Linked DNA regions of Homo sapiens: regions 1 and 3 are each linked to region 2. The links come from fine-mapping of genetic effects on plasma protein levels. A gene starts in region 2. Each other region holds a variant in brackets. All regions are shown on one strand. Distances are from middle to middle. Region 1 overlaps LOC105378534 (a long non-coding RNA gene). Region 2 holds the start of CPXM2 (carboxypeptidase X, M14 family member 2). Region 3 has its middle 51 kb from the start of CPXM2.

What was found. A credible set is the group of variants that fine-mapping cannot tell apart. PIP is the posterior inclusion probability: the model's chance that the variant is causal. The UK Biobank Pharma Proteomics Project read protein levels with antibody pairs (Olink). The fine-mapping took linkage between variants from a reference panel, not from the people measured, so its PIPs are less certain.
Region 1: its variant is the best candidate, but not a certain one, in a credible set for the plasma level of the CPXM2 protein (UK Biobank, PIP 0.81).
Region 3: its variant is the best candidate, but not a certain one, in a credible set for the plasma level of the CPXM2 protein (UK Biobank, PIP 0.56).

Annotation. Positions count from the first base shown.
Region 1 is chr10:123,908,899-123,918,761 of GRCh38, reverse strand. It overlaps LOC105378534 (a long non-coding RNA gene), which reads right to left. Exons shown (of 3, transcript XR_001747622.2): 3 at 9,795-9,863. It also overlaps a transcript of CPXM2 not described here. Among named protein-coding and RNA genes, the nearest start is that of CPXM2, 22 kb to the right of the region's middle. The variant A/C (reference allele first, on the strand shown) is at 4,731.
Region 2 is chr10:123,885,677-123,895,539 of GRCh38, reverse strand. It overlaps CPXM2 (carboxypeptidase X, M14 family member 2), which reads left to right and starts at 3,733. Exons shown (of 14, transcript NM_198148.3): 1 at 3,733-4,184. The coding sequence starts at 3,881. LOC105378534 (a long non-coding RNA gene) reads right to left here and starts at 1,836. Exons shown (of 3, transcript XR_001747622.2): 1 at 1,557-1,836; 2 at 1,296-1,462.
Region 3 is chr10:123,938,071-123,947,933 of GRCh38, reverse strand. It overlaps a transcript of CPXM2 not described here. Among named protein-coding and RNA genes, the nearest start is that of CPXM2, 51 kb to the right of the region's middle. RefSeq lists an enhancer at 8,890-9,059. The variant G/T (reference allele first, on the strand shown) is at 4,968.

The sequences.
Region 1 (9,863 bases), 23 kb before region 2:
TATGGCTTCCATGACCACTGCTGCTGAAGGGGATCACAGCATCATGACTGGGGATTGCCTTGGGACAGGGCTGGAAGACTAAAAGAAGGGAAAAGGAAAACAAAATGCGGATTTAGCCCCAAGCTGTGCACTGCAAGAGCTGCCCTTCTGATTTTCTGGCCAGAAAGGGAGGATTTCTCTTGGAACTTATTCTGTGCACATAACATCTGCCACACAGTTCAGGATTTAGCTGTTCTAGTGTCTAAGCCAGGAAATATGAGGTGGGAGCACTCCAGGACACTCTGCTGGATCTGTATTTCTTCGAGTTTTTATTTCTTTCCCTACTCTGTTATTATTTTTCACAGTACTCTGATAGTTATTTTATATAGTCTGTCCTGAGTTTTTAGTTGTAACCAGTAGAAGAGATAGAGAGTAAGGTATACCTCCTAGCCAGAATCGAAACCTGCCAAGTTATTTTTCATGGCTGCATAATATTTCAGCAAGCACAAGGGTCATAATTTCTTGAAATTTCTCCCTATTCGATTTTAGGTCATTTCTATTTGTTTTCATTATTATAAATAACCAGTGAATATTTGTTTCCATATTAATAATTATTGTCTTACAACAGATATTCAGGTGAAATGGCTGAGGAAATAATAAATACCAACATATTTAGATCCCTGGGCTTCCTTCTGATTGGAATGCGCTGCCCATATTTTCTTGTGAATGGGTCCTTCTTGTCATTAACTCCTCAGGAGGCATGGACTCTCTCTCACACCTGCCCTACAGTCTTGAACACATCACCCTGTTTTAATTTCTTTATGTGTTCCTATTATAACATCATCCCTGACAATAGAGAGATCTGTCTCCTGTACCACTGTATCCCCAGCAGCCAGGACAATGTCTGGCACAGAGTAGCTGTTCAATAAAGATTTGTTGAATAAGTTATATAGCACAGTGTTGAGGCATGTGGGTTTTTAGTCAGGTGGTCCAGGTTTGAATCCTTTCTCAGTCCTGAAAAGCTGGCTGAGAGGTATAAATGAGACTGTACGAAAGCTCAGTGCCTAGAGTATGGCAGGCATTCAGGGAATATTAGTGCTTATGCACTATGAATCATCAACTTGCTACTTCTGTAAAATGGGGCTAGTAATACTTCTCTCCTCTTCAACATACAAAAAGTGAATGTTTGTGAGAGCACATGTGGTTGTTAGGTAGAAAGGTGCCATTAAAATCTGAGGCTTTACATCTATTATTATGTGTACAAAATAGCAAGAAAAACGTCAAATGAATTCTGAAGCCCATTATAATCTTCTATCAAGAGCAGCAGTTGGAAGGAAGGTTCTGTCCGCAGGCTCTCTCCAACTCCCTGATGTCTTTGCAATGTTTCATTTTGAAAGAAAGTGTTGAAAAAAGTCAGGCTGGGTGTTAAGAAATGACTATGTAATTTAATTATTTTTAATGACATTAAAGATGTTAGTCATTGTAACTTTCCTTCCTGTGCCTGAGCACATCAAAGCGGATCCTGAATTAGAAATGGAATAAAGGATCTTTTCTATGGGCGCCTCTAGAGAGATGTTAAGGGAGATTTGGGAACGTTATGAATATTTTGGCATCTGCTGATTGTATAGATCTATTTTCATCTCCTACTCTCTCCCTTTTTGCCTCAAGCTGAATGTCTATGCCTCCATCCAATCTCACTCAATTTCAGAAACACTAGGTCCGGCCTTCCCTCCCCTCCCTTCCTGTCCTGGCTTCCCCTCTGCCCCCCATCTCCCTATCTGTCATTCTCACTCCCTACTCACCCCCTCCAGCAAACAACTGGAATCAAGATGAGGATCAGAGCTGGGCGTGGTGGCATGTGCCTGTAGTCTTAGCTACTCTGGTTATCAAGGCAGGAGGATCGCTTGAACTCAGGAGTTCCAAGCTGTGGTGAGCTATGATTGCACCACTGCACTCCACCCTGGACAACAGAGCAAGACTCTGTTTCAAAAGAAAAAAAAAAAAGAGAGAGAGAGAGAATCAAATGGCAGAAGGTGGCTTGAGCTAGAGGAATGAAAGGATTCTTCAGATCATTTAGCCAGATCAAACCAACAAACATTAATTTGATGCCTGATGTTTGCCAGGTTCTGAGCTGAGGAAGAGAGAGGAACACAGTGTCCCTGCCCTGGAGGAGCCTGAGTTAGGGAGGCCAGATGCACGCATGGAAAGCTGAGCAGTTAGGGACTTCAGTCACCACTCAAAGGAGTGGGCTTAATGCAGTCAGAGACGACTGGTCAATGGCAGTGAATAGGAACTCCCATGGGGCTCCATGGAAAGGAGCACAGAGTGAATGGGGGTGGGGTGGGAGTGCTTAGCTAAGTGACTTGATGGCTCTGGTTTTCTCAGTCTTGCAGACCTGGACACAGAAGCCCAGAACAATCCAGAGCCTTATCTAGTGTATCATTCATCAGCGCAGAGTGGCTTCTCTATCCCAGGGCTCCTGGCCCCTACTCCATGGATCCTACCACCTACTCTCGCTTCATCCAGCTGCCTCTGATCCCACATATAATAGCATTTTGCCCCTAATCCCCTGGGATGCAATACAAGCTCACCAATGACCAACATAATGCTCCTAGGGCTGGGAATATTTGGTGGCTGAGATGCTTTCCACTCCTGTAGTAATTTGGGTTTGCACAGGTATTTTTTTTTTCTCCCAAAGCATAAAGTACAGCACCAAACTTCAAGCCTGAGAAAGAGCAGCCTTATGCCAAGTGCCCTGGAATCCACAAGCTTTCAAAGCTGGTGACTGTTTTCCCAGAGGGCACAGAGAGTCATGGCCAGGTGCTAGGTGCTGGTTTCAGGAGCAGAAAATTGCTCAAGGGCAGCAGAGGGCTTTGCTGGCCAACGTCAGGAGTATTCGGCGGAACTCCAGGGCTGGAGTGGGCAACAGCTTCCTGAGCAACCAGGACCAGGGACTGGAAAGTTCATAGAGCACTTTCTCGGTTCCCTGTCATTGTTTTCTCTCTGCTTAGCTTTCAAAATAATACATGAATGCGCACTATTGACCAACTCTGAGGATGTAGTGTGGATCAATCACAGACCTGTCCATAAGGAGCCATTGACCAGGAAGAAAGTTGACATCATACAAGGCAACAAACTAAGAAGAAATGATGAGTTGTCTGAAGGGCTCAGCAGATAGCTGAGATGGAGAATAATATGTGGGGCTTTTATTTTTATTTTTATTTTTTTTGACAATCTCGCTCTGTTGCCCAGGCTGTACTGCAGTGGCCCGACCTCCACTCACTGCAACCTCCACCTCCCAGGTTCAAGTGATTCTCCTGCCTTAGCCTCCCAAATAGCTGGGACTACAGGCGCCTGCCATCACGCCTGGTTAATTTTCATATTTTTAGTAGCGATAGGGTTTCGCCATGTTGGCCAGTCTGGTCTCGAACTCCTGGCCTCAAGTGATCTCCCCGCCTCAGCCTCCCAAAGGGCTGGGATTACAGCTATGAGCCACCGCACCCGGCCTACGTGGGGCTTATTTTGGATGGAGAGATAGGAGGAGATCTCCCTGCCATGCAGGGATGATGTGCAGAGTCAGATGTGTGAGGCAGGAGCAAGTGTGTGAAGGGCAGGGCGAGGACCTTCAGGCAGAGGAACAGTGAGTGCAAGGCCCTGAGGCAGGAAATATTTGAGAAACTGAAAGGATCTAGGCGGGGGAGAAGTGAGGAAGGCATCAGAGGAGCCGCGGGAGGGGAGGGGACCAGAGCAGGTCCAATCTCAAACCTCTTGGTAAGGACTTTGCATTTTATTCTTTGGGTGGGAAGAATCAATGAAAGGGTTTGAAGCAGATCCATTTGTTGTTATGAGCTGGCCCCTCTGGCTGCTGCGTGGAGAACAAATTGTCAGGAGGCAAGAGGGAATATGGGGACTAGTTAGGAGGCCGTTAATCAAATCCAGGTTGTCAGGGAGAAAGAGAGAGCATGGAGACTAGTCAGGAGGCTGATAAGCAAATCCGTGTTGAAGATAGTGCTGGCCTGAATGAGGGCAGTGAAATCTTGGGGAATCAGGGAAGAAAACAGATACATGGTATACGTTGGAAGCTGAATCTACGAGATGGGCTGATGGATGCTATGCTGGGGTTGAGCATTTAGGGCCCGGGTGCCAGGCTTCTGGCTTAAGTAACCATCCAGGTATAAAATGGTGTTGTTGGCAGAGACCAGGAAAACGAATCTGGGAAGGAAAATGGGGAGTTCACCTTTCGAGTGAAGTTTGGGACCTGGAGGCAGCATCTGAGTGGAGATGTCAAGGAGGCTGTCAGTCACACAGACCTGGAACACGGGACTTCTCTGCAAGAATTTAAAGCCACAGCAATGGGTAGAATGAACAGGCTTCCCTAGAGAGAGAAGGGGGAAAGCTGGAAGTGAAAAGGGGCCCAGACCCAGCGCTAAAGAACATGTACATCTTGAGTCTCAGAGAAGGAAGACGAGGCAGAGAAGGCCTGGTCAGGGCATTCCGGTATCCCAGATGGGAGAATGTCCGGGAAGGAAGCCATGGTTAATGTGCTCGATGTGGCTTAGAGATTAAGAAGTAGACTCATGGTTAGCTTCACAGAGTTCCCGGATGACCTTGGCAAGAGCTGTTTTGACCTTCAACTTGGCCATGCTCATTTCCTCTGCTTCTCAGGCACAGGGCAGGCTGGATCTCCTCCCAAATTGCATGCTCCATGCCAAAGAGGTCAAGCCACCAAATGACACTGACTTCCTGCCTTT[A/C]AGGTTGGATTCTGAAACCCCAGGGGAGGGAATGCGGTTGGCAATGGCCTGACTCTGGTGCTCACTCTGGTCCATCAGGCATGGTTCAGGGTCTGGGAATTATGTATTGCATAGGCTGTGGGCAGCTTCCAGCTTCCAGAGCCTGGGAGGGGGGTGCCTCCTGAGGAGGGATGGTGCTTGGAAGTATGCCACAGATCCGGTTAAACAGCCAGTCCACACCATCTTTCTTTCAGAGCTTTATCTCTGCGGACCTGGAGCTGCTGGTCACCATGGAAACAGAAGCTTTTGTTCACCACTTCCTCTTCTCTTTTTCTCGCTCCCCACCCCTCGTCTTTCCTTCCTCTCCTCACACCCACTTGCCCTCCTCTCTACTTTCTTTCCTCTATTTTTATTCCTAATTTTCTATCTCACTTGCCCTGATTTCCTCATCTATTTATTTAAAACTTATTTAAATTTTATTACGTAGCTTCCTTAGCCATCTTTAATTCCCTTTGTGGGAACAAGGTGCGGAATACATGCGTATATTCATTCAGATGTATGCACATACACACCTACGCACATAAACACACTTATGCAATAATTCCAGTGCTCTTTTGCCAAGCCAATGCCCCCTAAACAATCATTAGGGAAAGAATACAGAGTGGTGAGACATATATTCTAGCCTTGTTATTCACCAAATGCTACTTGGAGAATACATATTCTCTTTTGAGTTTATCCTGAGACTCCGCACTTGGATAAGGCTGCACTTCTTCGGCATATCTGTGTATAACTTCAAACAGCCAGGCTTTGACTGCTCCTATCTTAATAAACATAGCTATCAGTCATGTTTAGCTCAAAATACCCACAGCACATCTTTTATTTTATGTATATACACACAACCAATCCAGAATCTTCCAAGAATGCCTCTGCCAAACTCCACACTCATTAATCAAATCAAGGCAGAGAGCCCAGCAGCCTCCTAGAGTAAGAGCTACTATGCAGATTTAGAGCCCTTCATCTCTGCAGAGTAGAGCCCGGGGATCCATTTCCATCGCTAAGCACTCTTTCAGCAGAGAACTACCCGTGTGGATGAGCTTTGGAGGAGTCTGGAGTATGACTACAAAGAGAGGTAAATCCACAAGGTCTGGCAGTTCCTTCATGACCCTCTATACCTAGTTGGCAAATGAAAACAACAACAAAGTAGTTGAACCTGTTGTGTGGCTTCAGAGACAAAAATAACTGGATGGTTGCCTGGACTGAGGTTGTTTGATAAAATAAATTAACAGGTTGTGAGAATCACAAAGATGGAAGTGGGTGATTGATCAGAGCCCGGGATGAAAAAAGCTAAGTGCCTTTCAGAGCCTTCCTCCAGCCGGAGTGGAGAGGGCTGGGCGTGTTTCAGTTCACACTTCCATGCTCCCAATCCCTGGCAGTGCCTCCTAAATTAGCAGGCTTTGGGGTGAATACCCAGGAGGGCATCACAGATGGAAACAAGCCCTGGCCACCAGCCCCTCCCCTTCTTTTCCACACCGGTGCAATGTCTGGGAGGGCACCAGTCTGCAGATGCAGGGGTGGCCCAGGATGTGGAGCTGAGTCCCAGAGGGCAGCCTCTGCTGCCTCTCTCATGTGACCTGGGGAGAGAAATGCCAGTGCAACAGGCCTCACTTTTCTCACCTGTTCAGTGGGTTACAGTGGGTAGCTACTTAGGTATGAGCAGGGCAGGAATGCCTGCCCCCCCCCCCCCGCCCACCATCTGCACACTCACACACACACACGCACTAGGAGTGTTGGGTGACCATCATGTGATGGTCAGGCAGCTGTCAACTGTTTCTCTAAAATAATAATTGGTCACAGGCGCTGCCAGGGAAAGGCAGGCTCCTAAGAGAAAACACCTGAAACCGATCCGCAGCTTCCTAATAAGATCTCAGGAGTGGGGAGAGGGAATGCAAGATCCTGGAAGTATGCCAATGCAGAAAACCCCAGTCGAGAGGTCTAGCTGTGCACGTGGTTCCGCAAGTCACCCGCTTGGTCCTCTTCCAAGTTTGCCCCTCCTTCCCCCCTCCTTTCTGTTCTAAAGCTTTTCAAATAAACTTTCACTCCTGCTCTGAAGCTTGCCTCAGTCTCTCCTTCTGCCTTATGCCCCTCAGTCGAATTCTTTCTTCGGAGGAGGCAAGAATTGAGGTTGCTGCAGATTCACCACTGGTAACATGTAGAGCACCCCACCCCTGCAGGGTGGCAGGAATGATTACAGGAGACGGTGCTCACAGTGTGTGTTCAATGGGTGGCACCTGTAATCAGAGCCCACAGAGGCTCTGTGGGTGCCTTGGCATCACAGTGACATGTGAGCACCCATGTGACTTTCTGGAGTTTCATCTCTTGCCATGCCTCTGTTTCTACCTTGCTGAATCATCCAAGGTTTCCTGAAGTCTCTCAGCTTCTCTCATCTCTGAGTTTCTTGGAGCTGTTTCCGTTCATGGCCTCTTCACCTGGCTATTAGGTTGGTGCGAAAGTAATGGTGGGTTTTGCCTTTAAAACTAATGGCAAAACCCACAATTACTTTTGCACCAACCTAATCGTATTCAGCCTAGTTCTCATCTCCATCACTCTTTCCTCTGAGAAACTTCATCGATGCCCTAAGGCTGGGATAGGAGCCCCCTTGGGGCTGCCCTGCTCTGAGTGTCCTCAGACTGCACTTCCTAGCAGCTGCCGGGGGACCTGTCCCCTGGACCATCAGTTCTTGAGGGCAGGAGTCCCTCATACCCAGCATAGTGCATGGAATGTAACAGGTGCTCAATAAATACTTGCTGAACAAATTCCCAAATGAGAGAGTCACAAAACTAGATAGATCAAGAGAAACATAAGGTCTGTATGGGTTGAATTTTGTCCCCCACAGAAAGATATGTTGAAGTCCTAACTCCCAGTATCTATGAATGTGACCTTATATGGAAATAGGGTCTTTGCAGGTTTAATCAAGATAAGATGAGGTCCTTGGGATGGGCTTTAATCCAGGATGACTGCTGTCCTTATAAGAAGAGGGAAATTTGGACACAGACACAGACACACGAGGGGAGTGCCATGTGGACACACAGAGATCCAGACATAGCAGCACGATGGCCCCATGGAGGCAGAGGTGGAGATTGCAGTGATGCTGCCACAAGCCAAGGAACACCTGGGGCCACCAGACCTGGAAGAGGCAAGAGTGGATCCTCCCCGAGAGCTGGTGGAGGGAGTGTGGCTCTGTGGACACCTGGATCTCAGAATTCTGGCCTTCAGGACCGTGAGAGAATAAATTTGTGTTGTCACCCAGTTCTGTGGTGCATTGTTACTGCAGCCCCAGAAAACGGATACAGTCAATAATGAGGCAGAGACTTAGGTGCAGTTGGGTGAGCACCTGCATTCATACCTGTATTTCACACCAGTTATGCCTAACTCACTTATGCAAATGTCTAGTAACTGATGATTCTGCACCAGCCTGGGGCTTGTATCTGGGAGGGCACAATGAGGAGGTGCTGAGGTAGCCCTTGCTGACGGGAAGTGAAGAAAGCTGGGATGCAGTGGATCAGGAGAACTCCCCCTGGGAACTGCAACAGGGGCCGGGGGTGCAGTTCCGAGAATCTCTGCAGTGGGGGAGTGATACTAGGTTTGATGAATGCTGACAGGACATGAAAGGGTTCTGTCCGGGTGGAGGTCATGATCTTGGCCATTGATTTGACAAAGAATCCTACCTCCAGGGCCGCAAATGCACAGAACTGATTCCCAGACTCCAGAGGGAGAAGGAGTAAAAAAAACCTGGCCAGGTGTCCAGGCATTCAAAGCAAGGCACCTGTCTGGCATGGGTGAGCAACCAAAGGCTGAGTCGGGAGATGAGGCAGGTGTGCAGGGGCGCGAATGTGCAGGTGGGCCAGCTCGGTGGGGCTGGGTTCAGTGAGGGACATTCCAGCCTCTGTCTGCCATTATGGTCTGTGGTGGCCCCACCTGTCTATGGTGGCTGCACCTGCTCCCTACACTGTCTCTGTGGGTTCGGGCGCTGCCTGGCTGCACCCACCAGTACAGGTAGGTGGCTGTGACCCTGGCAGTCCTGGGATATGGAAGCTGGGCCACCTCTCTCGAGGGCATCTTTGTTTCCACGTGCATCAGCATGGAGGGACTAAATGTTGGCATGAGATTGTGTTGAGGGCACTGCTCCATGGCCCTCATGGGTGAACACATGACTGATACTGTTCCTGGACACTGAGGAAGCCCCAAATCACCTCCATTGTCTCTGCTTTGAGAGAACATGACAGGAAGAGGAGAGTGGTTATAGTTATCCTGCCTTCATTTTATGAAAGCATTATGACTTGTTGAAAGATGTTCCTTTGGGAGCTTTTACTAGCTTTCCATTTGAGTCATTGAGGGCTGACTGTCAACTTCTGCATTTGGAGAAGTGTTGACAAAGATTTAGTACCGTACAATGGAAAGAGAAATATTCTGGAGGCTTTGAACGGCCCAGCAAACATGAGCAGCCTGGGTGAACACAATTAGAACCCAATGCAGGGCTGAAGGAAAGCAGCGCCTGGCCGGGCTTCCGCTTGTCAGGTGGAGCCTTGTGGAATATAAATTATACAGCTGCTTTCCCTTGCTGGGCATGGCACTAGTTAATTACTCAACACAGATTTTGGCAAAGAGTGTTCTTTAAAGAAAAAAAATTAAGCCTTGTGTGGACTGCAATCGGGATTTATAGAAACATAGGATTCAGGAGGTGGACTTGCTGAGGGCGAGTCCCCCCTGCAGGCCCTGAAGACCTGTTACAGGTGGGATGTGGGCTGGTAGTGTACTTTCTGGAGATCTTTCCTGGACGCTGAACCTCAGGGTGGAGGGAAGCCCGTGTCCCGAGCTACACGAATCCTGCTCTTATACTGTCTTGTGTGGGATCCGCTATGCCTGAGGTTGATGGCAGAGTGTGCCTGTGCCCAGCCAAAAGCTTGAACCTACAGCTTCAAAAGGGCAGAATTGCCTCTTAAAAGGTCAAGTCAATGCATTAGGTTATTACAAAGTATTCACTTAAATTTAGTGAGAGTTAACAATGAGCCTCCTGGCTTGTGTTTACAGCTTTAAATCTTTTTTTTTAATTGAAGATATAAGGTACTGTTAGCAAAATTTACATAGAGTGAATTA
Region 2 (9,863 bases):
GAAATTTTCTGTGTTTCTTATATTCTGTTGGTTTCTGTGGAAGATGCAAAGTTAGCATATTATAATAATCACAGAGCTTATCAGTGCTGTGCAGGAGGCCATTAAGAGTCTGTCTTGGCCGGGCATGGTGGCTCACGCCTGTAATCCCAGCACTTTGGGAGGCCAAGGCGGGTGGATCACCTGAGGTCAGAAGTTCGAGACCAGCCTGACCAACATGGTGAAACCCTGTCTGTATGAAAAATATAAAAATTAGCTGGGTGTGGTGGTAGGCACCTGTAATCCCAGCTACTTGGGAGGCTGTGGCAGGAGAACTGCTTGAAGCCAGGAGACAGAGGTTGCCGTGAGCCGACATGGTGCCACTGCACTCAAGCCAGGGTGACAAAGTGAGACTCTGTCAAAAAAAAAAAAAAAAAAAAAAGAAAAAAAAGAAAAAAAAAAGAATCTGTCTTATGGTTGTTGCCCAGTGGCAAGTGGAAAGAGCCAAGTTTGAGTGAGCTGGTGAGCCTTGAACCTTACCTAGAGGGGTTAGGTTTACTTGGGATTGGTTAGCCCTGCAGATTCTTCGGTCGGGGAGCAAGGTTGTTAACGGGTGTTTAGGGAGAATGAATGGCTTGTTGCCTTGAAGGAAGAGTGGACGGCAGATCAGAGAGGCCCAAACAGCGAGACCTGCTGAGCACGGATTCCCATCATCTGCCATGGGTCTCTGAACCATGGGCTGAGTGATGGGCAGTGGGAACAGAGGAAGAGGCAGATTAAAGAATGTGTGCCATGAGAGCAGCAGGACTTACTGCTATGTATTAGAAGGTGAAGGAGAGATGGGGCCAAGATGACCAGGGAGGTCTTCATCTGAGAAGCTGAAGAACGCAGGACCCTCCCAGGCAGATAGGTGAGAGTTGGGAGAAAGAATAAGGCTTGCAAACCAAGAGAATGAGGTCAGCTTTGCCGCCCTATCTTCCTAAACTTCATGAGCTCTGACTGTGCCTTGCACCTTTCCAGGACGGGCAGCACCAGAGAGAGGGAGCCAGAGGTAGACAAAGGAGGCTCCAGGAACAGTGCCGTGGGCTTCTGTGTTGGGAGAACTGGCATCAGTGCAATCGATTCTTGTTCTATTTGTCCTACTTGCTTTAATTATGTGTCTCTCCAGGGAAAACAAACAAGCAAGCATTGATAGGGAGAGCAGTAATAAGTGGGACTCATTTCTTTATTCCAGGGACATGTTGAGAGGCATGTTTGGGTAGGGCCTTCTCTGGACACTTACCAGACACTGCAGAGCGGGTATATGTTATGTTACTCACCTAAGAGGTGCTGAAAAGCGGTAAAGTGTCTTCAGGACTCATGGGCTTGGGGCCATTGGGATGTATATGGCCTGACTTTAAATATTGGTTAAAGGCAGCAGAGCAGGGTTAGTCCTGGCCATCACTAGCTTGCTGTGTGTCCTCAGGTAAATCTGGGCCTCAGGATCCTGTGTAAAATGAGAGGGAGAAGATTCATCTTAAATTTGGATGCTATCAGAATTACCTGAGGAACTTCTTAGATATGCTAGTACTTGAACCCACTCTTTAGGAGATTCTGAAGGTCTGGGGTGCCGCCTGGGTGTCGGTCTGCTGTTGAGCAAGCTCTGGGGGTTCTGATGGAGGTGGTGCAGGGCACCGTCCTGGCCTGGGCTGCCTCTGCAGTCCCTCTGGCCAGGATGCCAGGCCAGCCTCTTGTTAGCGCTTCACACAGCTCGCTGGAACGCTGGGTGTGTTGCTTGCTGCTGGAGCCGCTTTCTGTTTCACCACTAAAGACTGTGTTGTCGTCTGGAGTGCCTGGCTTCAGATAAAACAGTCCCCAGGAGTGAGCCCTGGGGATAGGCCATGGAGGAGGGTGGGTGGGGATCCAGGAAGGGTTGGGGAGCAAAGAGTGGTGGGTGGGGAAGGGGACCCTCCTGCCCTCTCACCCTGAGGACTTCTGCTGGCTCTGGATTCCAGAGCGTCCTGGGGGTTTGACAGGCAGGACCAAGGCCTCCTGGTCCCTGCAGACAGGCCCTGCCTCAACCAGCAGCCTCCTCCTCTCCCTCTGGTCATTCTGCTTTGGCCTTCAAACTGGAAGCCTGGAAGACTGGCCCTAAAAGATGGCCTGGTGGAGTGGCCTGCGCAGAAAGAGAATGACAACCTTCCTGGTCCAAGCCCTGCCCACTGTGGGGTCTCAGGAGCCCCCACTCTAGGGAAGTCCTCACTCCAGGGCAATGGTGAGGCCTTGCCCTGGTGCCCTGACTCAGCTCAGTGGCATCGTAGGATCACATCACAGACCCAGAGGAACTGGGAAGGTGACAGGCCAATGCAGGCTTGAGGGTCAGTCTGTCCCTGTAGCGCACTCCATGGGTTCCCAAAGACATCTACACCTGAATACCTAGAACAAGAGATAGTTACGGAACCTGGCAAAAAGTTAGGGAACATGGCAAAATGGACTTTGCCGATGTGGTTAAGGTCACCACTCAAGATAGGATGACTATACTGAATTTTTTGGGTGGGCCCATCTATTCACACTCTCTTAAAAGCACAGAATTTTCTCTAGCTGGAAGGCGGAAAGATGTGGCAGGAAGGGAAGCGATTTGAAGCTGTGCCAGCTCTGGCTCTGAGATGCCGGGCCCACGTGCGAGGACCAGGGAGAGGCCTGGAGGAGCCTGCAGAAGACATGAGGAGGAACACAGGCAGCCAGCAGGAGGAAAGGCGCCTCAGCCCACAGCCAGCGAGTGAACTGCACGTCAGTCCTACTACCGCAAGGAGCTGAATTCAGCCAATACCTGAGTGAGCCCGGAAGTGGACTTTTCGCCAGAGGCTCCCCTAAGAAACCAGTCCTGCTGACCCCTTGATTTTGGCCTGGTGACACTCGCATCAGCCTTCTCACCTGCAGAGCTGTGAGATAGGTGTTGTTTGAAGCCACTAAGTTTGTCATCGTTTGTTACAGCAGCAAGGGAAACGATGCAGTCCCTGGTTCCCCACATCCCCGCCTGGAGAGCAGAAGCCGCAGGGCCATGGGCCTGGGCTCCGCATAAAGAACCCATGCAGAGTTGTCCAAAGCAGGAGGCCCTTTCTCAAAGGACCCTCTGGGCAAGAGCCTGCTCTTGGATGAACCACAAACCCTCTTGTGACCCCTGGATGGCCACCTTGGGGTAACGTCACTGTCTTTCCCAAGACCCAACAGAATCACAGTCTCAGATGGGAGAGGGCTCCTCCAGGGTCCCTAGGCCCTGCTCCCAGGGAACTTTACTCCCAGAAACCCCGGGAACCTCAGGAATTCCTCATTCCCAGTTCCTGAAACAGTAGCATGGCTAGTGGGAAGTCCACGTCTGCGGAATGGTCAGCACACGGGGCACGGTTTGAGAGCTGGAGGCTGCTTGGGCTCTGATTTACTTTAGGACCCTGGGCCAATCTTTTCTTCTCTCAGGTCACGTTTCTCCACCTGTAAAACAGGAATGGAACAGCGGGCCTCAGTGTTTTCTTCTAAGATTGAAACTCATTAGCGTCTCTGGGGAAGCAGGCCCCACGCTGGCTGGCCTGCGGGGGAGGGGAAGGGGGCTTTCTTGGGCTTGGCTGCTTGGAACACCTGCCTCCAAGGACCGGCCTCGGAGGGGTCGCCGGGAAAGGGAGGGAAGAAGGAAGGGCGGGGCCGGCCCCCCTGCGCCCGCCCCGCGCCTCTGCGCGCCCCTGTCCGCCCCGGCCCAGCCCAGCCCAGCCCCGCGGGCCGGTCACACGCGCAGCCAGCCGGCCGCCTCCCGCGCCCAAGCGCGCCGCTCTGCTGTGCCCTGCGCCCTTGCCCCGCGCCAGCTTCTGCGCCCGCAGCCCGCCCGGCGCCCCCGGTGACCGTGACCCTGCCCTGGGCGCGGGGCGGAGCAGGCATGTCCCGCCCGGGGACCGCTACCCCAGCGCTGGCCCTGGTGCTCCTGGCAGTGACCCTGGCCGGGGTCGGAGCCCAGGGCGCAGCCCTCGAGGACCCTGATTATTACGGGCAGGAGATCTGGAGCCGGGAGCCCTACTACGCGCGCCCGGAGCCCGAGCTCGAGACCTTCTCTCCGCCGCTGCCTGCGGGGCCCGGGGAGGAGTGGGAGCGGCGCCCGCAGGAGCCCAGGCCGCCCAAGAGGGCCACCAAGCCCAAGAAAGCTCCCAAGAGGGAGAAGTCGGCTCCGGAGCCGCCTCCACCAGGTAAGGAACTTTCTGCGCTGGGCAGCCCGAGGGGGCGCCGGTGGTTGCGCGCCTCCAGGGGACAACTGGCTTCTCCCATTGTGTGTGTCTGGGATGGGCCAGTCCCGGGAATCTCCCTGTTGCCGCCTCTGCCTCCCTAGGGACTGTATCTGCGCTTCCTGCCGGCCCGCCCAGCTTCCCAGAACTTGTCCTTGACCCTGACATGCATTTCAGCTCTGGCTTATGCCCTTAGGTAAAGAGGGAGCTGTGCAATTGGGAGGCTGCCTATGAGAGTCAAAGTTCTTGTTTCAAGCTTGAAATCCCCTGAGCTAAGGGTCTTTCTGCTGGATGCCTCTTACTTCTCTGCCTACTTCTTCAATCCTCAAATGCGGCTGAATTTCCGCTTTGGGGATGTGGATGGCTGGCTGTTTTGGCAGATGGCCTTCTAGGGAAAGCTCTGCCAGTAGGCCTTTACCCAGTCGTGTCCCTTCTCAGCTCCCTCCTTCCCACTCTCAGCGGGTCTCTTGGGTCCTCTGCCCGGCTGGGGCAGGATGGCACAGCCTCCACTGGGGAGTCTGTGCCTGGAGTCTGCTGCAGCCTGGACTCCGGCTTGGGGGCTCCCTGGCTGCCTGCAGTGCTCCGTCTTTCATCCAAGTCTCATACCCTTCTCAAATCCATCTTCAGTTTCTGCCAACCTCATTTTCTTAGGAAAATGACTTCCACTAAATGACGTAGTTTATTAACCACCTTGTGAAGTGGGGCTTTCTCTAGTTCCAAATGTTCTTTGCTTAAATTGCAGGGGCTGCAGGCCTGGTATTTCAAGAGTGGGGCATGAGCAGGAATGTGGCCAAATTCTCTGGCCTCGCAATGGCCTTTCCTGAAAGGAGATACGTGCGGGTGCCACCGTTACAGGGCTCCGGGTATGGAAGGCATCGTCTTTGTTTGGTTAAACTGCTCACGAAAGTCAGCAGCCAGGGCAGTGGGAAAGTGGAGGAGGGGTGAGGACACAGAACTCCTGAAAGGGTGGACCTATATGAGCACCCCCCTTTGCAGAGGCCCTGGCATGCTTCCATTTGTGGACAACTTTGAATGGGCGGAGATTTCTGAGTTGTGTGACAACCCTGAACACATCCAGAATTTCCAGTGTTTCAGGGAGAGTTATGGGAATTCAGATGTTTAAGAGCTACAGTGGCTTAATAACAGGATTAGGAGTGGGAAGAGACTTATATTTGTAGAATGTCGACTGTGACTCCATTAGAAACTTTATGTGCCAGTTTCATTTCATCCTTTCAGTGGCTCCGAAGGGTGGGTGAGGCTCAGACAGTTTAAGTAACTTGCTCAGCGTCACTTGCTGGCTTGGGATATTTGAAAGCCTTTCTTCTGTCCTTTTTAACTCAAGGCCTTTTTGGTTTGGTAGTTTGAATCAAATCCACATGCATTCTAGTTTTTTTTTAAGTGCCTGCAATGTGCTTAGCTCCGTCCTGGGCATGGTAGGGTGGTGTAGGCAGGAGACATGTATGTTGGGTTCTGGCAGTCACTGGGGGTAGTGCTAAGGGGGAAAGTGGAAGAGAGCCCCAGACTGGGAGTCTGAAGACTGGGCCTAACACCCATGTTTAGGGCTCATCAACTTGGGGATCTGGAATCATGGCTCAGTTTCCTGAGCTTTAACTTCATCATCGTTTGCAAATAGGAAGACTGCACCTGCCACCTCACTTTACTTTGTCAATTGCTGTAAAAACCTTTTTAATGAAAGCTTCCAGTGTGCCTGCCCGCTTATGTGCTGGTCTTCCTGTGAACCTTTCATTCATTCCACAGGCCGTTACCAAGAACCTGCTAAGCACTGGTGCTGGGTGAGATCCTAGGAATGGGGAGAGCAAGACGTTCCTCTTCCCTGCCCCCCAGCCCCCGCCCCCCACCACATGGAACTAGCTGGGAACTCTGAGAAAGTAATCACAGTTGTGTTAAGGGTTGCACAAAAGTGTGGGGTGTTAAGGTAACAAACAAGCTGGGGGAGCTCACTGAATCTGTGGGGGCTTGCGTAATGCTTCCCCGAAGAGGTGATGTTTAAGACTTGACAAGTAAGTCAGCTTGATTGTCCTGGGGACTCGTACAAGTGACCGGACATCATTCCTAAGATAGGTTTCTTTCCCTACAAAACACATCTCAGAAAGTCACAGCCTGGCCTGAGCAGTGTCCACAGACTAATGTGTCTGCAGACTCAGGGGTTACATGGGGAAGTGACTCTCTTTAGTCCTTGGAGAAACAGCTCTTGCCACTCTTGGAATGGGGTCTCTGGAGGAGAAATCAGAGTGTAACCTGAATTTGCAAGAAAAAGCTCATTTGGTTTTGGAAGGCCATCTTGCAGGTAGAGACAGGCCATGGGGGAGCCTGTTGATTCGGTGCCTAGCCTCTGCTCCTGCAGGACACATTGCCCAGTTCACCGCAGCCCTGGCATCCACCGGGATCTCCAAGCCCCATACTGAAAACACGTCTTCGGAAGATCTAGAGACTCACATCAGAGGCCTGTTGGGACAGCTGCCTGCAGACCTGCTACCATGTCAGCTGTGTTTCTAATGAATTCTGTGGGGCTTTTTTAGAGCTCTCCCCAACCATGACAAGACAAGTGTGACATTTATCTCATATTTTTAACTCCTGTCCTTTTTTATTTTGGTGTTTGCTCAGCAGAATCCTCTGCCCTGGACCAAAGTGGGAAGACTGGTTTAAGCGTGAACTTAGTTAGGGGAATCAGTGACAGTTTTGTGCAGTTAAACTACACTAGGAGAAAATTATTTTTTTTCTACTTTAAGTAGCGGCTTGATCTATATGCTGCTCGTGGTGTAATAGAAGCACTTATCTCTGCATTGGATTGTTTTGGAATATCTTAGGAAGGCACTTACATAGGAAGGAACATTGGACTGTGGCCTGGAGTGTTTAATGCAAACTTCTGTACTTTGCTTCACTGGGTGGATGATGCAATGCTATGTATGAGGCACTGAGGTGGGAGTGAGGGGTTCAATTTAGAGATGCATAACAGTATAAAAGCATATATAACTAATTAAAAGTCTATATGTACTTTATCTTTGCAGATGATAAAATATTTCCCAGATAGCTCTTGTTTTGCATAAAGGTGAGTGCAAGGAAAGATGTATTCAGCAGTGATTCCCCACACAGGCAGATTTTCTATGTGGTAGGCCCTAGGAGGGAGCCCTGTTTTAACCCTGTAGCGGGGTTTATGCAAGGAGCCAAGGGCATTGGGGATTTGATCTTGATGTGGGTTCTGGCTTTGACCATTGGCTGTTCTTTCGCACCACCACAGAAATGCCCAATGGGTGTGACATGCTGACATTCATGGAGATGCTTGGAGAACTGAACCCTTTGGCTAACTGAGAGTATTGCATTTTCCATGAGTGGCTAACAGGTTTCCAGAGAAGTAGAGCCCCAATATATTAAACAGAATGGAATCTTTAAAAACATTTATTTAAGCTTTTATTTTGAAATAATTATAAACTCACAGGAAATTGCAAAAATAGTACACTGAGGCCCCATGTACGCTTTGTCAGCTCCCCCCAGTGATAACCTCTTAGATGATTCTAGTACAAGATACTTCAATCTTGGCAGGATTGATGTTTTGGGCCAATTGTGTGTTTGTTTGTGTATGTGTGTGTGTGTGTTGTGTGTACGTGCCAACAGAGGAGGAAGGGGGTTGCCTTCCTGTGTATTGCAGGATGTTTAGCAGTGTCCCTGGACTCCAAATTGGATGCCAGTAGCACCCTCCCCCCTGTTGTCACAACCAAAAATGTCTCCAGACATTGCCAAATATCCCCAGGGGGATGGGAGTCACTGTTGTATACAGTATCAAAATGAGGAGGTTGACAGTGATACTGTTAACTAGATTACATGCCTTACTCAGATTTGACCAGTTCTTACATGCATTTGTAGGCATGTTCTCTGTAGTTTTTATCACATGTACAGGTTCATGGAACCACCACCACTGTCAGGATATGGAACCGTAGAATCTTTTTCTTAGGTTGCAGTAGGATTTTGGTACTGTACAGTTTCTGAGGTCCTCATTGTGAACACTCATCCATCCGAGAATTTTAGAACTCTAAGGACCTAAGTGGACACTGAGCACAGATTCTTGCTTATTGCGAGATTCTAACAGTGAGCTGCCCGGCCTCTGCTCACAGGCTTCCATGGATGGACTCTCACCATTCAGTGGATGAAGAGTACTTATTGCTAGAATGTTCTTCCTCATATGAACTTGACAACGTTCTGCTCTCTAATTCCATTTATTTAGCTGTTTCGAATTGAATTTGACAGTTTCTAGATCCCTGCAGTTGGAATGATTTAAGGCCACGGGAGTGAATCTCAGGTCCTCAGTTTTCATTCTCCCAGGGTTATGAATAAGGTAAGGGGCCACATTTTGCACGTGCAAGTGGATTTGGGGGTGTCTTACTTTCCATGCCATCTTCAAATTGATGACCCTGGTTTGCAGCCATATTCCTTTTGAAGAATAAAATAGAACAGAAAAATAAACCATAGTTATAGAACTTATCCTTTTCCTCCCACTTGGCAGTAACAATCAAATCAAATAATAAGCTGAACTATTGATTTGAATGAGGGATTTGAAGATTTTATTTATTTCTCTCTTCATTGCACATTGGGTTAGAAGTAGGCTTGGATATGTAGTCTTTAAATTTGAGTTTCTGCTTGGTCCTTTGTTCATAACTTTCTTCCTGTGCTGGTGAGAATGCACCGCTGTTTGAATGTGGACAAACCCACATCATCGCCATAGTCTTGAGCCCGTGGAATTTGCAGAGGGGGCAGCGAGCCACGTTTGTTTGTGTGTCTGTGCTCAGAATCATTGAGTTTGCATTTTGTACTGTGCTGGGCCCCAGTTGCAGGGGGAAATAACCAAAGAGTTGTTCTTTGAGCATATTTGGTTGTAAACAAAGCCTTTTCTGTTGTGTGTGCCGTAAGCCAGTTGGTGAAAAGGGCTTCACATTTAAGCTTTCCTTCTCTTTTCAGTGTGTTTTGCTGCATTTGGCTTTTGGATGGAAATGTCTTCTCCTGGGCAAAATGGGAGTGTGTAAGGATTAGGAAGCTGTGTTTGTAAATATTTCAATAAGTACTTTAAAAAGCAATCACAATGCTATTAGCATACCTAAACAATTAACAAGCAATCCTTCATGTCAAATTATATGCTTACTTTAAGAGTTAAATCCAAAGTGTTTTGTCCAGGTAAACTCCCTATAGAATTCCAAGGGAGAGGACGTCATTTCCTGTACATTAGCAAGCAGCTTTCTAAGACACCACCTCCATTTCCAAAATGCTTTCCAAAGTCAACTATTAATGCTGGCAAATTTCCTCTTGCCTGTGCCCAAGGTTCCAGAAACCAGGGCTCGCGCATGGATAATAAAGGAGGACACACCCACGTTTGCGAAAGCTGGACTGCATGCTGTGGTTCTTAAAAATAGCCACTGTGTTTTCTGTATGCCTCAAGTGTCCATGGCTGCTAGAGCTCATGGCACCTTTAGTGTGGGGACAATGGCAGCCTGGCCCTGGAGCCTTGACTTTTGAGGTGGAGGTTTTCTCTGGATGTCCCTGAGGGTCCAGGGAGCCTGAGCATTCAGGCTTGGCATCTCCAGCAATGGCTCTGCCCTCTGTGGCCCTCTCAGGCCCCAGCCACTGCAGCTACCA
Region 3 (9,863 bases), 52 kb before region 2:
AGGTCTCTCTCTGTGTTACTTTCATGGGCGTGGAGTACAGATGTGTCTCAGAGCACCCCTACACTTGTGCAGTGCACAACTCAAATAACTGAGCAGGGTGACCCTGCCCCACTAAGGGAGATGAGCTTTATCTTGAGGGGAATGGGCAGCCTTCAGAGGGTTTGAAGCAGAAGATTGACATGGCTATAAATGTGAGTTTAAAAGATCACAGTGGCTGTGGAGCATGTGTTAGAGGAAGAAAAGGCGGAGGCAGGAAAGCAGTTGGGAGGAAGCCTTGTGAATGCAGGTGAGGCTTGTCAGGGCTGCTTTCAGGCAGTGCTGGGGAGAATGGAGGGGCGCATGCTGTGTGGGGCCCGCAGTGGCTTCTGTAGGAGCTTGAGAGTGACAGCACAAGGAATGAAGAAAATGTCCAATCCACTGTAAACATCTTCGGTGAGTAACAACGGGACTTGTAAAATCAGCTGCCATTGTTGATGCTTATGCCATAGAAACTTGCCAGGAGTTTTCTCCCCGACAGTTTCAATGATGCCTGCTGAATTATGTTGCTTGTCACTGAGAATATGAATACTTTAAGGCATTTCTTTGTTTCAGTAACTCTCCCCTGCTAATACTCAATACCTTTTCTCTGTTACGACTCAAAGAGATGTTCTTGACTCTGACCACCCACGTGCCAATTCAGTTCTGGAGAAGCAGAAAAACCTGAGTGCTGGAGATGGCGAAAGGTCTGTGTCCCTGGCGTGCCCAGGTCCACGTCTGCCTGCCCTCCTCCCTTCCCCAGTTGTTGCAGGGGGCTAAATGGTCTCAGCACTGCCCAAGCACCCACAGCAGAATCTGCTAGAGCCTGGTCCCGTAAGCTTCCCACCTAAGCTTAGTCTCCCAGTTCTAAGCTCAGCCCCCACCCTCAACCCCTCACAAAGGCAAATACCTCCCCTCTTCCCTCTCTCCCAAGACTACTCTGAAAACAAGCCCTTATACTTGGTCATCTATTGACAGCTATGCTTTGCATAAGAGAGAAGGATCTGGAATCCCTGGGCACAATTCAAGAGGCAGGGATGTGGCAGAGGGAGAAAGAGTGGAGAGGAAGAGAAGACCCAGTGAGAGGTGGGGAAGATGAAAAAGCTGGTAGCCAAGAAAGACAATTCCAAGGCTGGTGTGGCCAAAGAACCACAATGCCATTCACACTGAAATATGTGTGGTTGCCAGGGAGCCACCTGGGAGGTGGAAGCTAGCTGCTTTAACAACAAAATTCAGGCCGGGCGCGGTGGCTCACGCCTGTAATCCCAGCACTTTGGGAGGCCGAGGCGGGTGGATCATGAGGTCAGGAGATCGAGACCATCCTGGCTAACAAGGTGAAACCCCGTCTCTACTAAAAATACAAAAAATTAGCCGGGCGCAGTGGCGGGCGCCTGTAGTCCCAGCTACTCGGGAGGCTGAGGCAGGAGAATGGCGTGAACCCGGGAAGCGGAGCTTGCAGTCAGCCGAGATTGCGCCACTGCAGTCCGCAGTCCGGCCTGGGCGACATAGCGAGACTCCGTCTCAAAAAAAAAAAAAAAAAAAAAAAAAAAAAACCAAATTCAAACGAGTACTGGCTCAACACGAGGCCGCGCACCTCGTGCTTGCAGGACAGGCCTGGGGTTGACTCACCTCCATGTAGTCCCTTGGGACCCAGGGTCCCTCCTCCTGGTCTCCATCATGGTCTGGTTAACATGAAGGAAAGGGCCTAGAGAACATGCCAAAGGTTTCTCCAGATTGGGGCTGGGAATAGCTCTCTCACTCCTTTTTTTAAAACAACTTTATTGAGGTACATTTTACGTATCATGAAGTTTATCCATTTCAGATATCAGTTCACTGATTTCGGTAACTTTACCAAGTGTTGTAACCATCACCATAAAACAGTTTTAGAGCACTTTCATCCCCAGTAAGATCCCTCATGCCCATTTCCTGTCATCTCTGTTCCTATCCCCAGGGAACTGCTACTTTACCTTCTGTCTCTGTGGATTTTCCTCTTCTGGACATTTCATTGAAAGTGAGTCATACAATCTGTGGTCTCGTGTGTCTTGTTTCTTTCACTCAGCCTCATGTTTTTAAGGTTCACTCAGAGAGAGAGACAGTAGTTTGTTTCTATTTATTGTTGAAGTGTATTCCATTATATGAACAGACCATGACACTTCACTTCTGCCCTGCTTCCATTAGCTAGAATGCAAGTCACGTGGCCAAACCTAATTGCAAGGGAAGCTGGGAAATGTAGTCTCTGTACCCAAAGGAAGTAAGGCTTTTGTGAACAGACAGTGGTATATCCTGACAATTCCTCCCTGTCTCCAATTACTCCATAAAAAGCTATAAATACACAAATGACACGCATGAGTGGTGTGTGTGTGTGTGTGTGTGTGTGTGTTTGCAGAAACTGCATAGTCCAGGTCTGACTTGGCTGGATGGGCAGCAGGGCGTGTGTGTGTGAGAAGGTAGGCGGGAGAATAAACGCTAAATTGAAGGTCAGAGGTAGCCTTGAGGACATGAATGTAACCGTGGGCTTGTTGAGACCACAGAAGAAGGGTCAATGTAGAGCTTAGCCAGGTCCTTGGAGGCAGGGAGACCCTGCTGGTGCGTGGGTTACAATTGCTGGCATGATTTAAAATGCACCTGGAACAGCCCTTGAGAGGGACCCTCTGGGGCTGGCTAAAGACATCTCCTTTGTGCTTGTGATTTCCACGGCAGCAGCATATTATTGACTCTTCATGAGCATCGTCACAGCTCAAAGTCTGGAAGTATAATTTTTAGGAAGAAAATATTCCTTCTTTTTGCATTCTTGGAATAGTTGTCAAAGGGGGAAATGACCCCCAGAAAAAGTATGGTCTTTGTAGGGGAAAAAAAAACTGCACTCCTGGGCCCTTTGAGAAGTTGATGCTGCTACCAGAAGTTCAGGACAAAGAGTGATTAGACTTGCGGCCTGAGGAGTTATTTAAGGACACGCTGTGCCCCGGCTCCCTTTGAGTCTCAGCAATGTTTTTCACTTAGCATTTTAATCATTTGGTGGAAAGGAGGAGATGAGCTTTCAAGGCCAGAGAATTCCATCATTTGGAATAACAGGCCAAGCAGCCCACGTTGACCTGAGGCTGACTTCTCTGGACAGCTGAGGCCCAGCACCCGCCCTGTGGAGCCCACACTCCGGCTTTAGGATGCCTGAGAAGAGCCAGCCATCTTTATGAAGGGAAGAGGTGCTGTTGCTTCTCCTGTTTGGAAGCAGAATGCTGGCAGTGTGGTTGGGATGCTGTCTGTTGTCCAGAGGGCAGTGGAGGTTATAGAAAATTCCACACAGAACTCTGAGGAGCCACCCTCAGATTTGCTTTGCACCGTCCAGAAATTCTCATCTCAATGGTAACGCATCTGTCTAGGGAGAGTCAAGAGGGAAAGAGAGTGGGACCAGCGTTCTGCTGGAACTTTGCAGGCATTTCTTAGAAAAGCAAGTCAGTTTTCCCAGGTTCTGAAAATGGCAAGATTGAATGCTAGAATTTCATACCAGGTTCAGAACCCTTTGTTTTAAAGACCCACAGAGAAGAAGTGAATTTGTGTTGAGCCGGAAGTAGAACTTTTGACTTGTAGAGATTGGCCAAATCTTATCTGGTGCTTTGTAGAGCCTACAGAAGACCTGTTTCCTGCTCTACAAGAAGGAATGGGGGTACTGATATTTAGGATGAATCTGCTCTATATCAGATGCTTTTTCCACGTTTCCTATATTCTCAGGTAATCCCACAGCTCATCAGGTGAGTTAAACACCCCTTGTGAGGTCACACAGCAGGCAAAAGGGAGAGTTGGGACTCAAACCCAGCTCAGCCTCACACCCCAGCCCGGGGCCTTTGCAAACATCATGGACACTTTAACCTTGTAGGACATCCTATCCCAAGCTGTGGAGCTTTGCAGGATGATCCTGGCTGGAAGCAGAAGCAGGTGACCACGATGACGATGGTCTCTTTAATTAGGATGCCACAAAGGACCTGTTTAGCCTCAGCTCTGGAGATACAAATACCTTCTCAGAGCTACCCACTACACAGATCCCCCTTCTATTCCATGGGGCAGCAGGGGTTGTCTGCTCCATCTGGGAAGAGGACCAGGACAGTGGTGTCCCTCTAGGCCCAAGACGGACTGTGTTTGTCTTTGCAGGTGGCTTCATTGCGCCAGACAGCCCCACCGTAGCCTGGGCCCTGAGCTTCTGCCTACCAGGCTGTCAGCAACATCTCAGCAACAGGCTCCAGCCAGTTGGCACATACCTGGCTCAGCTCTACAGGTAGCAGTGATGCTTTTAGGACCTCGTTTGTTATTTTTCAGACCTAACCTCATTGCTCTGCACTTCAGGGGCTGAAATGCAACTCCCTGTGGGGCCCAAGGGGACTTTTGGCCTCTCTGCAGCCTGCTGGTCCCTGGAGGATCTACCTCGTGCTGCTCACCCAAACCCTGCACGGCTGGCAAATCCCTTCTGGGTTTTGTTTGAGGCACCAGAGGCTCCCCTGAGGCATTGAATTCTGATTTTATTGTTGCTGTTGCTGTTGATGTTTGTGTCCATACATTTTGCAACTTCCCACAAACTTGTACATCCAAATGCTTTGCCCTGTTGTCCTTGTTAAAAGGATAATTTTTAAAAGGCACAGTCATGATTGTCATAAAATATACAATGAACACATCAAGTTTACTTAACTTACTATTTAGTGAGGAAAGCAATAGTATGGTACGACCAGTTCAAAGGAACATTCAAAGAACACACATGAATTTAGAAATACAGTCATACGTTGCTTAACTATGGGATATGTTTTGAGAAATGCATTGTTAGGCAATTTTGTCATAGTGTGAACATCAGAGTTCGCTTACTAAAACCTGGATGGTATAGTCTACTGGTATGGCCATATGGTAGAGTCGATTGCTCCTAGGTTACACAGCTGTACAACATGTGACTGTACTGAACAGTGCAGGCAATT[G/T]TGACACAATAGTAAGTATTTGTGTAACTAAACATATCTAAATATAGAAAGGGTAAGGTAAAAATATGGTATTATAATCTTATGGGACCATCATCATATATGTGGTCCGTCAGGGGTTCCCATCCAGACCCCAAGAGAGGGTTCTTGGATCTCACACAAGAAAATTTGGGACTAGTCCGTAGGGTAAAGTGAAAGCAACTTTATAGAGAAGTAAGGAAACAAAAAGATGGCTACTCCATAGTGAGAGCCCTCCTGAGGGCTGCTGGCTGGCTATTTTTACAATTATTTCTTGATCATATGTTAAACAAGGGGTGGATTATTCACAAGTTTTCTTGGAAAGCGGTGGGGATTTTCTGGAACTGAGGGTTCCTCCCACTTTTAGGTAATCTAGGGTAACTTCCAGATGTGGCAATGGCATTTGTAAACTGTCGTGGTGCTGGTGGGAGTGTCTTTTAGCATGCGAATGCATTATAATTAGCATATAATGAGCAGTGAGGATGACCAGAGGTCATTTCTGTTGCTATCTTGATTTTCGTTGGCTTCTTTACCACATCCTGTTTTCATTAGCGGGGTCTTTGTGACCTGTATCTTGTGCTGACCTCCTATCTCATCCTGTGACATCGTAGGTTAAGAATGCCTAACCTCCTGGGAATGCAGCCCAGCAGGTCATTTTACCCTCGGTTTACCCAGTCCCTGTTCAAGATGGAGTCACTGTGGTTCAGATGCCTCTGACACATCCTTGACTGAAATGTTTTTATGCCGTGCATGACTATAGATCCAAAGCTGGTCGAAACCCACAGAGCAATAGCAGTTGCATTCTACCAGACAAAATCCATCTGCACTTCTGTGGACTAGAGCCATTTGCATTACTCTAAGTTTTCTGCAACTTACAAAATTGTCCAATTCCTCAAAGACAATGAAAGGTGCAGGCCCTTAGAGATTCAGATAACCCTGGAGGGGTGCATAGATAGGACACCCAGCAATCTTTTTAACCTATTTTAAGCTCTTTCACAATTTCTCCTGGCATGCCCATAGGGATCTAAGCACACTTGCATGTGCAAGCCATTGTGCCTACAGATTCTGGGTTTGCCTGTTTCCACTGCTTCATCCGCATCTCAGATGCGGTTCAGAGAAGGTAGGTGGCCTGCTCAAGGTGAACGAGAGAACCAGTTCTTCTGGCCTCATACTCTAGCTTTTGAGCTCTTCTTCAAAGCACCCCCAAAGGCAGAGGAGGGGGAAAGTCCTCTGGGGTCCACAGGGCAGCCGTCCGCTGCAGGTGGGAGGGTCTTACGTTCTACCTCGTGAATATCCACACTGGTTAAACATAAAAACAATGTTTTAACATTATTCACTGTTATGGGTCAGATTGTGTCCTCCAAAAATGTATGTTGCGATCCTAACCTCTAGGACCTCTGAATGTGACCTTTTATGAAATAAGGTTACAACAGATGTAATTAGTTAAATTTAGACAAAGTCATACAGGAGTGGTGGTGGGGGGCTTTTAATCCAATATGATGGTGTCCTTATAATAAGAGAAGATACAGAGACAGACACAGGAGGCGGAGGCCACGTGACAACAGAGGCAGAGATTGACCTGCTGCAGCTGTAAGCCGAGAAACACCAGGGAAGCTGGCAACCAGCAGAGGCTAGGAAGAAGCAAAGAAGGATGCTTCCCTAGGGCCTTCAAAGGGAACACGGCCCTAGCCACACCTTGATCTTAGATTCCTAGGCCCCAGAACTATGAGACAATACATTTCCATTTTATTTTATTTTTAATTTATTTATTTTTTTGTTTTGAGATGAAGTCTCGCTCTGTCACCCAGGCTGGAGTGCAGTGGCGCGATCTCGGCTCACTGCAAGCTCCGCCTCCCAGGTTCATGCCATTCTCCTGCCTCAGCCTCCCGAGTAGCTGGGACTACAGGCACCCACCAGCACGCCCTGCTAATCTTTTGTATTTTTAGTAGAGACGGGCTTTCACTGTGTTAGCCAGGATGGTCTCGATCTCCTGACCTCGTGATCCGCCCACCTCAGCCTCCCAAAGTGCTGGGATTACAGGCGTGAGCCACCGTGTCCGGCCCATTTCCATTGTTTTAAGCCACCTGTTTGTGGCACTTTTGGACGGCAGCACTAGGCAATGAGTACCCTCACCATGGAGACACAGATGCTCCAGGAAGAAGCACCAGGCTTGTCCTGTGGCTTTGAGGGCCCCACCGGTGTGGGAATCTTGAGCTAATCCATGGTCCCAGAAAGGCAAGTGCTGTTTTCCACCCACTCCAACAACTCAGCGTTGGTTTAAAATGCTGGAAGTCGAAAGAGAAAGGCTGTTGCCATCTATGGATGCTTGTTAGGTGGGTGTTGAGGCGTCCCCCAAGAACTTGGAAATGAGGGAAATAAGCCTGCTCACTGAGAGCCGGAGCCAAGGCCCACACACAGAGTGTAGATCAGAGATGGGCAAAGTTGTTGGGTAGTGATGAGTGATTCCCAGGCTTGGGCGCTCCCTTGCCAGGTGGGTTCTGGGGTGGATCTGGGACAAGGGCACAGATGTCCCGTGCACATCATCACAAGGACACAGAGTCCTGTGCCCATCATCACAATGACAGAGATGTCCTGTGCAAATGACAAGGACACAGATGTCCCATGTACATCATCACAATGACACAGATGTCCTGTGTACATCACAGCAAGGGCTCATCACCCATGGGTAGGTAAAGAAGAGGCATGGAGGTGAATGCAGGCAGCAGCTTTCAGGGAAGAAGAAGCATCAGGCTGCAGACCTTGCCTCCTCCCTGCCCTGATGGCAGGACTGAGGCCTCCCAGGGTGAGCTGGGTGCAGGCAGCAGGGGAGGGGTTGTGGTCCTGCTGCTTCGAGCTCAGGGAGCTTTACAGCCAGGATGTGTCGATGACTGTGGTTCTGGGACTGAGGGATGTCGATGGTGGGGTGGGGCCGTTAGGTATTCTCTTCTTCTAAGTCTCCTTGCTCTAATTCCATGACTTCAAGTCCTGCAGATGCCCCTACCCAGCTCTGCCTGTGTGGACAGGAAGTACGTGCTAGCTCTTCAGCAATGTGGTCTCGTGGGCCTTCTCCTGGAGAGCCAGCCATGGGGTTCCTGCACTTGGGCCTGGCTGTCAGAGAGCCCTGATCAGGCACATCTGGGGTGCGCCCAGGCTCTGGGACAGGGATTCTCATGGCAGACTGATGCCTTGGGCCTCTGTGCTCCCACTTAGCATGCGTCTACCTGTCTGGCCTGATAAAGTCACATCCAGACAGCCTCTCCTTAGGCCCGGCCTCCCCATGCCATCCCCAGGGCTGGTGCTCTACTGACTTCTGCACCAGACACCCCGCTGAGCCCTTTAGACGCAGAGTCTCATGACATTACAATCATCCCAATGACCCTGTATATTAGGGCGTGTGCCTTTCTCTCCTCCTATTTTAAGGATGAAGAAACTGAGGCTGAGGCAGTTCAACAACTTGCCCAAGGCCACGCAGCAGGTCAGTAACAGAGACAGGATGGGAATCCAGCCCCATCTAACTCCAGAGCTGGCCTCTTTCCACATCCCCTCGCTTAGAGCCACCAGCATGACCGAGAAGCCAAAACCCACCAGGATGGCAAGAGGGGACTTCCTGAACCTGCCTGCCTTCCACCTGCTGGGCCCCGCTTGGTGCCGCTTTTCTAGTTTACTTTAAATATGTGAGTCCTATTTCCAGCCTTACCCGAAGCAGGCCCAGGTAGAAAACATTGCCATGGTAACCCTGCTACCAAGGGGCAGTACTGCTTCTGGAAAAGATGATACCTTGGTTCCCAATACTACGGCTCTGTGGGTCTGAGGGACAAGTTTAATTGGCACTGCTCACAGTTGGCTCTGCAGATACACTTCTCGTGGCTTTATGTCCCTGACATGGTATCCAGGATACCAGGAACATAATGTGTCTGCTCCTCCAGAGGAGGGAGAGGGGTGAGTCTGGCTGTGTCATTTGTATCGGCTCTAGTTTGTCTGATCAGAGGGCTTGGCAGGGTGGGAGCTCTGGGTGGGCTATGGAAGTACCTGGGCTGTGATCCACCTGTGTCCCTGGGTCACCTATGTCCCCCAGTGAAAGTCACCTGGGCTGGGTCCCACCTGCATTTCCAGATAAGTGTTGCCTCCCACTGCCATCACCGACTCTACATTGAAAGCCTGGCATGACCCCTCTCTCTTTCTACTGGCTCACCATAGACCAGAGCGTATACGGGTGGCCCTGAGTATCTGCAAGATGGCTGCGGTAGACGCTGGCCAGCCGGGCAGCCAGCGGGCATTCACCATTCTTGCTTGCTAACGGCATCTGTCACAGTGACCCTGTTCCCCTTGGCCAGGTGCACAGTGTCCCAGGCTCCCTTGCAGCTCCAGGAGGTCACATGACAGAGTGCAGGCCAATGAGCTATGAAGACATCTCCTGGGAGACTATTGGGAAAATTGTTCCCTTCCTAGTAAAAAGAAAGAGACAAGGGGAAAGAGCTACTCTCCTCCTCTCTTAGGGAACAGACATGCTCTTTGAAGCCATCTCATGATCAGGAGATTTGCAGGCACTGGCCAAACCCCTTGACATGGTTGAGCTGCAGACCGCACTGCACCTATCTACCTCCAGACCACTGGCTTCATGATATAAGGAACTGTCTTTCATTGTCTGAGTGCTTGCTACTCAGTGTGATCCCAGATTGCAGCTTCAGTATCATCCAGGAGCTTGTCAGAATTGTCAGGATCTCAGGCCCCTCCTCAGGCCTGCTGAATCAGAACATACGTTTTAAAAAGACCTCCTAGTGATTGTGTGCACACAAAAGTGTTAGAAACATTGACCACTGAGAGAAAGGGAGGGAGAGTGGGAGATACATAAAGAGAGAGTCAGAAAGAGGGAGAGAAATC